2 separate regions of the Homo sapiens genome follow, and region 2 is linked to region 1. The links come from fine-mapping of genetic effects on plasma protein levels. A gene starts in region 1. The other region holds a variant in brackets. All regions are shown on one strand. Distances are between the middles of the regions. Region 1 holds the start of ARG2 (arginase 2). Region 2 overlaps VTI1B (vesicle transport through interaction with t-SNAREs 1B).

Region 1 (9,206 bases):
GAGTTTCCACATGTTGACCATTATGAATAATGCTATGAATATTTGTATATAAGTTTGTGTGTGGCCAGGTGCAATGGCTCATGCCTATAATCCTAGCACTTTGGGAGGCTGAGGCAGGTGGATCACTTGAGGCTAGGAGTTCGAGACCAACCTGGCCAACATGGCAAAATTAAAAATACAAAAGTTAGCTGGGCATGGTGGTGCTTGCCTGTGGTCCCAGGTACTCAGAAGGCTGAGGCCGAGATTGCACCACTGCACTCCAGCCTGGGTGAAAGAGCGAGACTGTCTAAAAAAAAAAGTTTGTGTGAATATATGTTTTGAATTCTGTTAGGTATATACATAGGAATGGATTTGCTTGAGGACACAGTAACTATACATTTAACTTTGAGGATCTGCCAAACTGTTTTCCAAAGTGGCTGCAGTTTTACATTCACACCAGTAGTGTATGACAGGTCGAATCTTTTTACACCCTCACCAATACTTGGTATTGTCTATCTTTTTTATCATAGCCATCCTAGTGGGTGTGAAATGGTATTTCATTGTAGTTTTGTGGTTTTTTTTTTCCCCTGAGACAGAGTCTCACTCTGTTGCCCAGGCTGGAGTGCAGTGGTACAATCTCTGCTCACTGCAACCTCCACCTCCTAGGTTCAAGTGATTCTCCCACCTCAGCCTCCTGAGTAGCTGGGACTACAGGAGTGTGCCACCACATCCGGCTAATTTTTGTATTTTTTAGTAGAGACGGAGTTTCACCATGTTGATCAGGCTGGTTTGAACTCCTGACCTGAAATGATCTGCCCGCCTCAGCCTCCCAAAGTACTGGGATTACAGGTGTAAGCCGCCACACCCGGCCATTGTAGTTTTAAATTTGCATTTCCGTAATGACTAATGTGTTTACTGCCCATTTGTATAACTTCTTTGGAGAAGTGGCTAATTAAATCTATTGCTAATTTTTAAATTTGGTTGTCTTTTTACGGTTGTTATTTTATTTATGTTTGCCGAACACTAGAATCTTATCAGGTATATGATTTGCAAATATTTTGCCAATTCTATGGGCAGTCTTTTTACCTTTTCTCTTTTTTTTTTTTGGTTTTTCATTACATTGATGAAGTCTTTCCAGTTTCTTTTTTTTTTTTTTTTTTTTGAGATGGAGTTTTGCTCTCGTTGCCCAGGCTGGACTGCAATGGCACAATCTCGGCTCATCACAACCTCCGCCTCCCAGGTTCAAGCAATTCTCCTGCCTCAGCCTCCCGAGTAGTTGGGATTACAGGCATGCACCACCATGCCCGGCTAATTTTTTTTTGTATTTTTAGTAGAGATGGGGTTTCTCCATGTTGAGGCTGGTCTCGAACTCCTGACCTCAGGTGATCCGCCTGCCTCAGCCTCCCAAAGTGCTGGGATTACAGGCGTGAGCCACCGTGCCTGGCCCCCACTTTCTTAATAGTGCTCTTTGAAACATAGATGTATTTAATTTAGCTAAGTCAAGTTTAATTTTTGTCACTTATGATTTTGATGGGATAGCTAAGAAACCAATACCTAACCCAAGGTCGCAAAAATCCAGTCCTATGTTCTCTAACAGTTATATGGTTTCAGCATTACATTTAGGACTTTGGTCCATTTTGAGTTAATTTTCATATATGGTGTGAGATAGGGATTTTTTTTTTTTTAATGTGGATATCCAGTTATCCCAGCACCATTTACTGAAGACTATTCTTTCCTTACTGACTTGTGTTGGTCAAATAAAGACAGCCTTGTGAATGGACAATTTTAGGAAACCATCAGACCAGTCAAATGACAATTTTCTGGGGATGGTCTATGAGGAGTATCACCTCTGTTCTCCCTTTTGCAGTAACTGCCAGCCTCCTGGTTTCACTGTGATTGCAGGCTATCGGTTGTCCAGGCTACAGCTGATCTGGGAAAAGGCAGCATGGGAACAGGGCAAGTTAAAATGCCACAATTCTTAATGTTCTTACTGAGATTCAATGTTTTTCTTGAATAAATGCTCCCCAGATTGCTGCAAGCCTTTGGTTAATTTCCAGAGTTCTGAAAAAGCTGATTCTGATCATTTTTGCCAATGTTCTTGATATGGTTTGGCTCTGTGTTCCCATCCAAATCTCATGTTGAATTTTAATCCCCAATGTTGGAGGTCTGGCCTGGTGGGAGGTGATTGGATCATGGGGGTTGTTCCTAATGGTTCAGCACCATCTCCCTAGTGCTGTCTCATGATAGAGTTCTCATGAGATCCGGTTAAAAGTGTGTATCACCTCCCTCTTCGCTGTCTTCCTCCTGCTCCTGCCATATAAGACGTGCTTGCTTCCCCTTCACCTTCCGCCATGATTATAATTCTCCTGGGGCCTCCCCAGAAGCAGAAGCCTGTATGTCCTGCAGAACCATGAGTCAATTAAACCTCTTTTCTTTTTAAATTACCCAGTCTCAGGTATGTCTTTACAAAAGTACAAGAACAGACTAATACAGTTCTCATTCCTTTTTTGGAGGTCCTATGCCACCATTTTCAATGGTGTCACTATACAGTATTTTAAAACAACACAGATTTCCCATTAAAGTGCAAATTTCTGGCTTTTCTTGAAAAACTGGAGAAAAGAGTACAAGGCCCACTCCTTCTCACATGGTAACAGGTGGCTAGAATTCACAAATTACCATGGTTCTCAGAGCTAACCAAAATCGAGTGCAGATATACTGCTCCTCAGCCTTGCCAGAGCAATGCCTTTTCATTTCTCTTAGGCCCTCTTAAGCCCAGGAGTTCGGGACCAGCCTGGGCAACATAGTGAGACCCCGGCTCTACAAAAGAAAAAAAAATTATCCAGGCATACTGGCATGTGTCTGTAGTCCCAGCTACTCAAGAGGCTAAAGTGGGAGGATCGCTTGAGTCCAGGAGGTTGAGATTGCAGTAGGCTGTGACTATGCCACTGCACTCCAGCCTGAGTGACAGAGTGAGACCCTCTCTCAAAGAAAAATAAAAGGTGGCTGGGAGCAGTGGCTCACTCTTGTAATCCCAGCACTTTGGGAGGCCTAGATGGGCAGATCACCTGAGGTCAGGAGTTCGAGATCAGCCTGGCCAACATGGTGAAACCCCATCTCTACTAAAAATACAAAAATTAGTCAGGCGCAGTGGCAGGCACCTGTAATCCCAGCTACTTTGGAGGTTGAGGCAGGAGAATTGCTTGAACCCGGGAGGCGGAGGTTGCAGTGAGCCAAGATCGCATCACTGTACTCCAGCCTGGTGACAGAGCGAGACTCCGTCTCAAAAAAAAAAAAAAAAAAAAAAAAAAGGTTACCTGAGAGTACTGTTGAGTGTCCTTACTAAGCCCAAGGAAATAAAACAAGCCCAGACACTAAGTCAAATACATTCATTCGAGAGAAAACAGGAAATTTAACTCATGCTATGGTAACACCGGCAGCCTGTGACATCAGAGCAAAGGCAAGGAACAAAGGGATTGTGAAAGTTACCTTTCCATGAGTCTCTCCTTTGAAATTTGATCCATGCTGTTTATTTGAAAGTGTTCAAAACACTCAAGTTATTTTGGTACTGTTTAGGAACAGAGCAACTGAAATGTCTCTTGGTACTTTTCTCCAATATATTCCAGGAGATTAGCCAAAACCACATGCTAGAAATCTGCTGAGAGCCACAGTTTTATTTAATAGGCTATGAGATTCTATTTCAGACTGCTGGTGATACTGAGCTACCAGTCAGCTACACAGTAAGGATATAATTGTACAATTAAATATATTTGAGAAAAAAAGTCAAAGGGAAGGCCATATAAACTGAAGCCTCACCATCACTTTAGGTTGGAGTTTAAAGAGGGAGTAATATTTACAGGAGAATGGCTTCCCCTGGGTTGGAGTGGAAAAATACCAAGAGCTGTGACAGGAAAGGAAGTCTACAAAGCATGAGTAAGAGAAGCTGCTACAAATGTGCCCTTCCCCCTCATTCAGCAGCCTCAGCTGATTGTTATAGAGGTCTCCTCCAGAAGAGGCTGAAACCGCTTCTTGTCAGGAATCTCTTAAGGCAGAACCTACAGACGGTAGAGCAATTTGAGCAATGCTTGGCCGAGTTCAGATGGACTGCAGAGATGTCTCCAGGATTTAAAAACAGTGATAACCAGAGATTGTCGTCTTCAGTGTAAAATGATTCTTTTAAAAAGGCAGTGTGTACAAGCTATTTTAAGAGACAGTATGCTCATTTATGGGCGGGAATAAAAACTTCCTCCCATTAGTTAACTTGCCACACATTAAAAGAAGACTAAATCTTAGCAGTTTGTCTTTAATCTTCAGTGGTGAACTTGGAGAGTTATTAAAATGACTAAGAGAGGCCTTAGTAAAGAAGAAACTGCAATTATTTAATAAACAAGGTTCGAATATTGAATCCATGTCACCATATCCATATGTAGGTGGAGGTATATGAAGGACACCTCAACTCAAGGCTGTTTCAGTGACTTCATTATTCCTCTGGCTTTTGGAAGGAGATGACTTCACTTGGAATGGACTTATGACCAGCAGAGAAGAGTTCAGAGCAACAGTGGGGAGTTAACTTAGATTATGTGTTATTATCTCCATAATCTCCGTGCTGCCTCACATTTTGCACTTATGTCACCAGAAAAGATATGTGAATGATCCAAACATGAACAGAGCAAATGGCCTTGAACAGAGTCTAGAAACATTTAGATTGGATATAAAGAAGAACCTTCCTGCCATAAAGGTATTTATTTATTTATTTGAGATGGAGTCTCATTCTGTCACCCAGGCTGGAGTGCAGTGGCACAATCACTGCAACCTTTGCCTCCCAGGTTCAAGCAATTCTTCTGTCTCAGGCTCCTGAGTAGCTGGGACTACAGGTGCATGCCACTATGCCTGACTAATTTTTGTATTTTTAGTAGAGAAGGGATTTCGCCATATTGGTCAGGCTGGTCTCGAACTCCTGACCTCAGGTGATCCACCCACCTTGGCCTCCCAAAGTGCTGGGATTACAGGCATGAGCCACCGCACCCTGCTTATAAAGGTATTCAAATTTGGTGCTGTTACTAAGAGAAGGGTTCTCCCTTACTATGGAAATGGCATTTATAGCTGGGCACAGTGGCTCACACCTATAATCTCAGCACTTTGGGAAGCTGAGGTGGGCGGATCACCTGAGGTCAGGAGTTCAAGACCAGCCTGACCAACATGGTGAAACCCCGTGTCTACTAAAAATACAAAATTAGCCAGGTGTGGTGGCACGCACCTGTAATTCCAGCTACTTGGGAGGAGAATTGCTTGAACCCAGAAGGTGGAGGTTGCAATGAGCCAATATTGCATCACTGCACTCCAGCCTGGGTGATGGAATAAGACTCCATCTCAAAAAAAGAAAAAAAAAAAGAACACGGAAAATATAGATCTAAGCCTATTAGTTCTATATAAGATCAGTGAGCCTATAAGACCTATATTACTGCTTCCAGTAATAAAGATATTAACCCTAGAGAGGAAATAATTTGAAGACAGAAAACTGGCGAGACTGATAAATCATAAGCATCTCAAGATGGAGTTAGGAAAATGGAATTTTAAGGGGAAAGGTTGACTGTGCAGTTGAAGCTGGAGCTAGTGTTCTTAGCATCACTTGCATTCCCTGACAGCTGTTCAGACCTTGCCTCACTCTACCTCCTTGCCTTCCAACACACTCTTTATTGCAAGAAGACTTTCCCTGATGACTCCTTGATCTTAAGCCGCAGACGGAATCCAAAGGAGGATGCGGGATGTGGCAGACTGTTCCCAAACACAAAGCTGTGTAGTCCCTGGATGTCAGAGAAAAGACTCTGAAGTGGTCTATTACTAGTCCTGCACTAATATCTAAAAATCTAACCACTTACCCAAACTGGAGAGCCTTTTCATCAAGCCAGCTTCTCTTATGGCAGCGGGACCATGCTCCACTCCTTTTCTTTTCTGTCAGTCACACAAATTACACAATTAGAGGTAGAGAAGGTGTCGGAAAAAAACCCATTTGGTACATTTAGTTCCCAGCAGGTTCCTCTGAAAACCTGTGACAGCATCAGCCCTTCCATCAATGACTGTCCTTCCAACTCCATTGTTGGAATCACATCAGCTGCCCAAGCCAAGACGGGAGAGGCTGAGCCAGGTTAGGATCCAGGAGCTAGGCGTGTGTGGGGCTGGCTCGGGCCAGAGACTGGGCTTCTGGGCTTCGAGATGACTGAGCGCTCCCGACTGCAGGTTTCCTTCATTGAAGAGAACAAAACAGCTCCTCCCCACCTCCCGCGCTGGAGAGGCCAGCTCCAATTTCCCTCCCAGTTAATGCTCATTCTGAGTGAATGGATCCAGAAGACTTAAATCCTCGGTCGCTCCTTTTAACCTCCTCCATCGATTCTCCACTGGGGATTCTGACCAGTTTCGCCTCCTCCAGCCCCTCCAAGGAATCCTCTTCCTCATTCTCTCCCCTCCATTACCCCAAGCTGCATCCACCGTTTTCTCGGTCTTTCTGGGGAGGCCGCAGAAACACACCCTCATCCCAAACAGGGTGCCCTCCACCCCTCCCTCCCTCCCTCTCCATTCTCTGTCGGAGGATATCCCACATGCTCCCACGGTGCCCAGTAGCGGGAACCGGCCAGCTCTTCCCCTCGCCATTTCTCCCCATCCTCTCCTCGCCTCCCGGTCCCCCGCACCCTACCGCCGCTGTCTCCAGGTTCTAGGGGGCGGAGGATCCTGCCCGGCGGTTCCAGGTGCCAGTTCTCACCTGCCCTTGTGAGAACGGGGCTCCTATCACAGCCACGGAGTGGACGGATTTCTTCAGGATGGAATGCACTCGCGTCTGGAGGAGACGCGAGAGGCTGCCCCTTAGGGACATGATCCGCAGCACTGAGAATCTCCAAGGCAGAGGCTCCGCGCGGTTGGAAGCCGGGAGTGAGCGCCACCGCCCGCCGCTGCTCTTACCTACCCGCGCCAGCGTCCGCCCGCCCCGTGACGTCACCGCCACATTGGCCCCGCCGCCCGCGCCTCCAACCAGCCCCCGGCACACCTTCTTCGCAGGCCCCGCCCACCGCTCTGCAAGGCTGGGACGTGCCTTCGATGACGTCACCCCACTCTGGCCTGTGCTCTCCGGCCAGGGACATGCCCCTGCCGCTGACGCCAGAAGGCCAATATCCGGGTCTGGCCAGTAAGAGCGCGGTGACCAACAGGTGTGTCCCTTCGCGGGAGGCGGCCGGCCCATGCCAGGTTCCTGAACTTGGCGGAACGCAGGAGCCGACACCAATCTTCACGCCCGGCTGATGCTGACTCTACGGATGGGCTGGCTGGGTCGGGCCTGGTCTGGCCCTGCCTAGTCAAAGCCAGGATCCACCTGCTTCGTTCTATCTCAAAGCTCAAAGCCCAGGAAACACTCTTAGACTGGGCATCAGTGAAATTTGGATTCGGAGATATAATATAGATGAGAGCTCTCTGAGCCGGGCACGTTTATAAAGAGCCATCTACCTTAGGTATTTTGAATGAAAGAGGTTAGGATTTACAAAGCAATTACCTTTTAGATGTTTTTAATTCTTTACCTGAATAACGGGAGCGCTGGTTATTAAAAAAGCAAATATAGCAACGTATTTAGACTATTTCTAAGCTAAAGAGCTGTAAGTGCTAAGTAACTAGAGTTTTAATAACGAATAATAATTTAATAATCTCAGCATTCCAAGAACTTTACCCCTCCAATTCTATACCACAGGTTACTTTTTAAAGCGAAGAAAAGATCAAAGACATAAGTAATTTTCCCAGAGCCACATAGCTTGTAAGTGGCAGAGCTGACTCCACATTCCAAGTTCTTAACCAAGACACCATGGCATGCAAGAATCTAGACATTATTTCTACCAAATTAATTTTTTACATAAACTCCTGAAATTTATTTCACCTCATGTCAATTTACACACTGCTCTCCAAAACAGTTCAGAGGTCTCCATGGCAACACCATAACTCCAAAGGAGTTTTAGTACCCTAAGACATTTTATTTTTAGAGGCTCTGTTGTATATTGTCTCCCCCTGCTGGTTTAACAATGATGTCTTTGAGGCCTTAGCAAAATAACCACTGTAAGGCAGTGGTTCTGAAAGTGTGGTCCCAGACCAGCAGCATCAGCATCACCTGGATACAGCATCAAGAAGAAACTGGCTGCACATGGTGACTCACACCTGTAATTCCAACACTTTGGGAGGCCAAGGCAGGAGGATCTCCTGAGCCCAGGAGTTTGAGACCAGCCTGGGCAGCATAGTGAGACGCTGACTCTACCAGAAATTTAAAAAAAAAAAAATAGCTGGATGTGGTGGCATGTGCCTATGGCCCCAGCTACTTGGGAGGCTAAAGTGGGAGAATCTCTTGAGCCCAGGAAGTCGAGGCTTCAGTGAGCCATGATCACACCACTGCATCTCAGCCTGAGTGACAGAGTGAGACCCTATCTCAAAAAAATAAAAATAAAAAGCAGCAAGAAACTTCTTGCTTCTTGAGCACCTGCTATGGGTCACCAGATACTTGTTAGAAGTGCAAATTCTTGGGCCCCACTCGCGAATTTACAGAATCAGTAACTCTAGGGGTAGGGCACCGGTAACCTATGTTTTAACAAGCCCTCCAGGAATGGGTGGGGGCGTGGTCAGGGATTCACAGTCACAGATACTGTCATACTTGTTCAGTTCATTGAAATTATGTTGATACTTTTGTATTTCTTGCCCATCACTACATTCAATTTTTTTCCCCCTTTACTAAATGTTTTCTGAAGTTGATACTGGCACAGGTTGCCTCAGGGCTTCCTGTGCTACTGCAAAAACCTCTTGCTTCCGCTGGGCGCGGTGGCTCACACCTGTAAAACCAGCATTTTGGGAGGCCGAGGCAGGTGGATCACCTGAGGTCAGGAGTTTGAGACCAGCCTGACCAACATGGAGAAACTCCTGTCTCTCCTAAAAATACAAAAAGCTGGGCATGGTGGCGGGCACCTGTAATCCCAACTACTCAGGAGTCTGAGGCAGGAGAATTGCTTGAACCTGGGAGGCGGAGATTGCGGTGAGCCAAGATTGTGCCATTACACTCCAGCCTGGGCACCAAGAGCAAAACTCTGTCTCAAAAACAAACAAACAAACAACAAAAAACCTCTTGCTTCTTGAGCATTTACTGTGGATCACCAGACCGACCTTTCCAAAGTGCTACTTTAATCCTGCATGTCATTTTCAGTGGTTTTCCACTA
Region 2 (6,998 bases), 46 kb before region 1:
GGCTGGAGTGCAGTGGTACAATCTCAGCTCACTGCAACCTCCACCTCCTGGGTTCAAGTGATTCTCATGCCTCAGCCTTCCGAGTAGCTGGGATTACAGGCGCATGCTACCACACCTAGCCAATTTTTGTATTTTTAGTAGACACGGGGTTTCACCATGTTGGCCAGGCTGGTCTCAAACTCCTGACCTCAAGTGATCTGCCCGCCACGGCCTCCCAAAGTGCTAGGATTACAGGTGTGAGCCACTGCGCCCAACCACAAAATACTCTAAGTTGCTGGTAACAGACATAGTTGTTTAATGGATAAGTAAAGAAAATATATACATATCCCTAGAATTATAATAAGTCCAACAACTTTACCTCTTATTCACTACCTCATTCACACTGCTCAATAAATGTTTGTTGAATAAATTGAATTTATCTAAGCAAACACATGGTGCCTCATCTCTGAATCCTCTTTTTCTAGTTCAGAGACCACATCATAAAGTTTTCAGAGCTTTAATGCCCATCATGAATTATTAGGCACAGCATAATGTACATAATACAGTCCTTGCATGTAGCTTATGCTCTGTAATTGAATTCAGTCATTTTTCAATAAACACTGAGAATTATTATGTATCAGCCACTGTCTAGGCTCTGAGGACTTCCAGAGTTCTTACCTTAAAAAGAAACAAACGGCCGGGCACGGTGGCTCATGCTGGTAGTCCCATCACTTTGGGAGGCCTAGGCGGGCGGATCACAAGGTCACGGATGGAGACCATCCTGGTCAACATGGTGAAACCCCATCTCTACTCAAAATACAAAAATTAGCTGGGTGTGGTGGCATGTGCCTGTAGTCCCAGCTACTCAGGAGGCTGAGGCAGGAGAATCGATTAAACCCAGGGGGCAGAGATTGCAGGCGACAGAGCGAGACTCTATCTCAGAAAAAAAAAAAGGTAACAAACCTTACAACCAAGTGTGTGATTAATCCTAAAATAAAGTTCTCTGAGACCATAAAAAGGGCTGGACTTGAGCATGGGGAAGAGGGGGAAGCTTCAAAAAACTTCAAACTGAATATAAGGGATTGAATGGGAGTTTGCTAGATGGGAAATGCGAAGAGGCAACACAGGAGTAAAACATGGAATACTCCCAACTCTGGAGCTTAGAATGTATGTGGGAAAGTAGTAGTAGAGGGGCAGGTGAAACAGCCAGATTGTGAGGGGATCTCAGTGTCACATTGAGACATTTGGACTTGATATGGAAAGTCAGTAAAGGACGTAAAGCAGTTGATTGATGTGGATTTTCTTTTAGAAGGAGGGCATTAATGGCTAGACAGGACAAGAGAGAGCACAAGAATCTGGGTACAGGGGACTGTGTTAAGAGCCTTTTGGGCAGTCACCTTGCTAACGGGAATTTGTTTGACACAGGTTCTCACTCCTGTCTCCCGTCATCCAGGCTGGAGTGCAGTGGCACCATCACTGCTCACTGCAGCCTTGGCTTCCCGGGCTCAGGTGATCCTCCCACCTCAGCCTCCCGAGTAGCTGGGACCACAGGTGCATGGCACCAGGCCTGGCTAATTTTTTGTATTTTTAGTAAGGGTCTCCCATGTTATCCAGGCTGTTCTCGAATTCCTGGGCTTAAGTGATCCACCCACCTCAGCCTCTTAAAGTGCTGGGGTTACAGGGGTGAGCTACAGTTCCCGGCCCAAGAGTTGGTTTTGAGGCAGAAATTAACCAGCCTCAATGGATATGAGGAGTGAGGGAGAAAGGTTCCAGGGTGTCTGCATTTTTTCACTTGGTCAACTGGGTGAATGATGAACTTAAGTAAGAAACATAAGAGGAGAAGCAGAGTTTGGGTTGTGGATGAGAATATCAAAGGTACCTGTAGAACAGAGATCATGACATAATATAGCCTTACAAAATGTTTCTTCTTCTGCCATTAAAAATAACATACGGGGGCCAGGTGTGGTGGCTCGTGCCTGTAATCCCAACATTTTGGGAGGCTGAGGCAGGAGGATTGCATGAGGCCAAGAGTTGGAGACCAGCCTTGGCAACATGGTGAGACCTATCTCTACAAAAAAAAAAAAGCTGAGTAGTGTGGTGCTGCTCACTTGTAATCCCAGCTGCTCAGGAGGCTGAGGCAGGAGGATCACTTGAGTCTAGCAGTTTGAAGTTTTAGTGAGCTGTCATCACATCATTGCACTCCAACCTGGGTGACAGAGCAAGACTCCGTCTCAAAAAAAAAAAAAAAAATTATGAAGAAGTATGTGAATTGAGAGGCCATATAGTATAATATTTAACAGCAAGAATTCAAGAGCCAGATTGCCTGAGTTTAAATTCACCTTCTAGTAGCAGTGTGACCTTGGACAGGTTACTTTAACCCAATTAGTTTTTCCTGCCAAATGGGGATAAATCATAGTATCTACTTCACAGGGTTTTTGTGAGGAGTAAATGAGTTAATATATGTAAAGTCCTTAGAATACTGCCTGATAATAGAGCTACTAGCCATTTTATTTAAATGAAAATTAAGAATACCAGCCCTGTATACAACTATTCTTACCTTTTTTTTTCCAGAGTACTTATTTTCTGACATATTAGACACTTTCCACATTTATGATATTTACAGTATATTGTTTGTCTTCCTTTCACTAGGACAGTGGTTTCATTGTGGTCCATGAACCAGCTGCATCAGCATCATTTGGGAACTTGTTAGAAATGCAAATTCTCAGGCCCCACCCCAGACCTATTGAATCAGAAAGTTTTAACAAGCAGTGTGTTTTCACAGCCCTCCAGGGGGTTTCTGATGAAGGCTAAGTGTGAAAGCCACTGAGCTAGAATATAAGCTCAATGTTGTCTTTTTTTCACTGTGTTTCCTAAGTACCAGAACAGTGCCTAGCACAGACTAGGTGCTTCATAGATACCTATTGGATGATGGAATGTGTGAATTGTTGGAAAGAAAATATTGATATATGATTGTGATTTATTTCTATTCTGTTGTCCACATTTTCATTACTTTAAAAATGGGTATATTCCACCTATTAAAACAACAAAAACTGTATTTCTCCAAAGTACAGTCTCCATTCACTTTCTGCCTTTGAATGATACTAGAGACAATGTGTCCTGTTTTAGGAAGTTTTTGTGTAACTGTCCATTACCACTTACAATAATTATTAATCCATTTAATATTTCATTAAATACCTATGGCCATAATTTCTACTCTTGGTTTTACAACCTCTGAAGAGGTCTCTCCAATTACCTCAGAGTACTATAATGTGCTATAATTTCTTAATCTAATCAATGTTAAATGCCTGTGGTCATGATTTCTAGTTTTGGTTTTGTCATACCTGAAGACATCTCTCCATATGTCTTAACGTGTATCATAAAAATATTGAAAGTTTTCCATTTTAAATCATTTAGATCAGTATGTATAACACAAGACCCTATTATTTTCAGAGCCAGAAAAAATAGTCACTATGGAGTACTATAATCAGCTGGCCGATAAACACCAATTACTTACAGACTGTAGAATTTTAACTATTCTAACTCCTCATTTTTTTTGTTTGTTTGTTTTTTGTTTTTTGAGATGGAGTGTTGCTCTTTCACCCAGGCTGGAGTGCAGTGGCGCGATCTCGGCTCACTGCAACTTCTGCCTTCCGGGTTCACGCCATTCTTCTGCCTCAGCCTCCCGAGTAGCTGGGACTACAGGCGCCCACCACCACGCCGGGCTAAGTTTTTGTATTTTTAGTAGAGACAGGGTTTCACTGTGTCACCCAGGATGGTCTCGATCTCCTGACCTCGTGATCCGCCCGCCTCGGCCTCCCAAAGTGCAGGGATTACAGGCGTGAGCCACCGCGCCTGGCCTCTAACTCCTCATATTTTCTACTGAATTTGGTTTTTGCTCTTAGGTTCTTCCTAAGTATTTACTTTCAGAAACAATGGTGGTTTCTATTTATTGAGCCCTTATTATATTTGGCACTTGCTAAGTGAATGTTATGTGTATTATTTCTTTTAACCCTTTCAAACAACCCTTACAAGGTCAGTAGTCTTATAGTCCCTATTTGCAGATGAGGAAACAGGTTGGTTGAGAGGGATCTCTGTTGCTTTTAACTCTTGTATGGTGTGGGATCTAGTCAGCTGTCACGGTGTACAAATAAAGGGTGTAAGTCCTCCATTTTGCCACAGTGAGGCACCAAAAGCAAAGTAACCACATATTTATGAGCTGGTGAAACTGAAGTTGTTTCCACAACTTTAAAGGGCCAAGATTAGGCATTCTTGGGCTGGAAATTCAAATCCCCATAAGGAAGAGAGGCTGCCCACCTTGGTCAAACATTAAGGTAGGCTTTCTGTAGTGCTGTTTTTCAGAGCTGTCTGTTTCCATTTTACTCCATGTCAGCATCCACCCAGTTTCCCAAAGGAGACAGAGTTGGTCCCAGAGAGTCCCTCACATGTGACTGATTTGGGCAGGCTTGTGGGGTGGGGGATAGTGGTATTTGAAGTGGTTCATTCTTGTTCATGGTGCCCATTCTCCCCAGGATGCCACCTTGCTGTTTGTAGTTGATTGTAGCATCAATTCTAACTCCCTAAAAAGAGGAAGAGGTTTTTTGTTTTTTCAACAGATTTTACCAGTTGTTAAAGGCTATACTCTGGGAGCACAAAAATGCCCCTCAGTTGTATACAGTATACAGTTGTTTAATATACAGAAAAGCCTTGGACTGGGAGTCAGCACACTTGCATTCCAGAACTAGTGCTGCCATACATTTGCTGTTCCAATGACTGTGGGGCAGGCACTCAGTTTCTCCAGGGTCTAGTGTCCTCAGTGGTAAAGGCAGGAAGTTAGACTAGATGATCGCTGAGGTACATCCTAGCTCTAGCATTCATTGGTTTCATAATTCTGAGCCTAAAGAATTTTTAAAAAGCTGCTATTGATCCCTCTCAGTTGGGTAGAGATCAGTCTCTTGAATTATCTGCCTCCCTGGCTTTATCATCACAAGAAATGATTTCAAAGGTTTCTGTTTTGTTTTGTTTTAAATCTTAGAAGTCCAGAAAGGATCTCATAAATGTAGTGAAGTTCTGTAAAAGTATGTTGTTATAGAGCACTTATAAGAGGAAATGTGTTTTATGAAATCAGGTAGGAAATGGAATATTCTAGCACACAGAAGTTAGTGAAAGGAGAGAGGTTCTGTGGTCTTCTTCTCCCCCTTTCATTTATGTAGTTACATTCCTGGAATCATTCTAGAATTTGCCTCTTGAGAATGCGGATTTTCATACCCATTAACAAAGGAAGAATAAAGGAGGAGAATTTATGACTAAACACAGTTGTAGAAAAGTCTAGGAAAGGAAGGAGCTAGGAAGGGAATGTACATATGTGTACAGTACTGCTTCTTACTGTCTGGCTTGGATCAGGAGTGAGCATGCCTGAGTTTGGAGATGTGCTGACTCAGAGCAGTGATGATGCTCAGCACTTTTGGGACAGCTTATTACAAAATAATACAATACTGCTCCATGGAAGTAGCCGTTTTTGACTGTCGGTATTATTTCAGTACTGGTAGCTAAGAACACATCCCCCTCAGGAACAGTAATAGCTGCCTTGGTGCTCATTTCAGTTACATCATAGATGGTCAAGAGTCATACCATTTGCCATGGTGAACCTTCCTCTACCTTTTTTTAAACAACAAACAGCCATGGGTTTTGTGAGTGGTATGGAGAAAATTGTCTGAAGTATCTTGTGTATATTAAGGGGGTGGCACACAACAATGAATGAGACATAGTAAAGGGTGTGTTGTCATTTGCCCTTTCAGGCAGTAGCCACATCTAAGGAGGTTTATAGTTCTAGGATCTATGGCACAGTAAAAATGACAAAATAAATTTCCATGTTTCAGAGGAACTTGGTCTCAAGTTGAGATTATAGAATATACGCATCCAAAATGATTTATGGTCACTTAAAAAGTGGGATACAAGGACAGGTGTGGTGGCTCACACCTGTAGTCCCAACACTTTGGTAGGCTGAGGTCGAGGATTGCCTGAGCCCAGGAGTCAAGACCAGCTTAGGCAACATAGTGAGGCCCCATCTCTACCAAAAAAAAAATTAGCTGTGTGTGGTAACCTGCACCTGTAGTCTCAGTTACTTGGGAGGATGAGGCAGGAGAATTGCTTGAG[C/G]AGGTGGGAGGATTGCTTCAGCCTGGGAGGTCGAGGCTGCAGTGAGCCGTAATCATGCCACTTCACTCCAGCCTGAGTGAGACTGTCTCAAAAAAAAAAAAAAAAAAAGATATAACTGACATTAGATGCTGTTGTGATTAACAAAATGTAAATCCATATAAAGCATTACAGTGACATTACATCTTATGTAGGATTGGGTTCAAAAGTCAGGGCTTGGCCGGGTGCACTAGCTCACACCTGTTATCCCAGCACTTTGGGAGGCCGAGATGGGTGGACCACACAAGGCCAGCCTGGCCAACATGGTTAAACCCCCTCTCTACCAAAAAATAGAAAAATTATCTGGTTGTGGTGGTGCACTCCTGTAACCCCACCACTCAGGAGGCTGAGGCATGAGAATCACTTGAACCCAGGAGTTGGAGTTTGCAGTGAGCTGAGATGACGCCACGGCACTCCAGCCTGGGCAACAGAGTGAGACACAGTCTCAAAAAAAGCCAGGTCTTAAGATGAAAATCAGAGTAGACAAATCATCTAAGAAAATCTCAGGACAGCAACTGAATACCCACATGCCATTTCTCCATAAGCCCGGCTCATCTGTTCTCTTTTGCAGCGGAAAGGCTGAGGTGGATGGATCACTTGAGGTCAGGAGTTTGAGACCAGACTGGCCAACATGGCAAAACCCTGTCTTTATTAAAAATGTAAAAAAATTAGCCGGGCATGGTGGTGGGTGCCTGTAACCCCAGCTGCTCGGGAGGCTGAGGCAAGAGAATCGCTTGAACCTGGGAGGTGGAGGTTGCAGTGAACCGAGACCGAGCCACTGCACTCCAGCCTGGGAGACAGAGCAAGACTCTGTCTCAAGAAAAAAAAAA

What was found. PIP is the chance, under the fine-mapping model, that this variant and not a neighbour inherited with it causes the effect. Protein levels are from antibody-based Olink assays in UK Biobank. Linkage for the fine-mapping came from a reference panel and not from the study's own genotypes, which makes the PIPs less certain.
Region 2: its variant is fine-mapped to the plasma level of the ARG2 protein (UK Biobank, PIP 0.92).

The regions. Positions count from the first base shown.
Region 1 is chr14:67,617,616-67,626,821 of GRCh38, reverse strand. ARG2 (arginase 2) reads right to left here and starts at 6,902. Exons shown (of 8, transcript NM_001172.4): 1 at 6,734-6,902; 2 at 5,856-5,928. The coding sequence starts at 6,844. LOC124903331 (a long non-coding RNA gene) reads left to right here. Exons shown (of 2, transcript XR_007064218.1): 2 at 1-955. It also overlaps a transcript of GPHN not described here. RefSeq lists a silencer at 6,903-6,972.
Region 2 is chr14:67,664,502-67,671,499 of GRCh38, reverse strand. All of the region lies in intron 1 of VTI1B (vesicle transport through interaction with t-SNAREs 1B), which reads left to right. It also overlaps a transcript of GPHN not described here. Among named protein-coding and RNA genes, the nearest start is that of VTI1B, 6.6 kb to the left of the region's middle. RefSeq lists silencers at 2,656-2,705, 2,716-2,845. The variant C/G (reference allele first, on the strand shown) is at 6,133.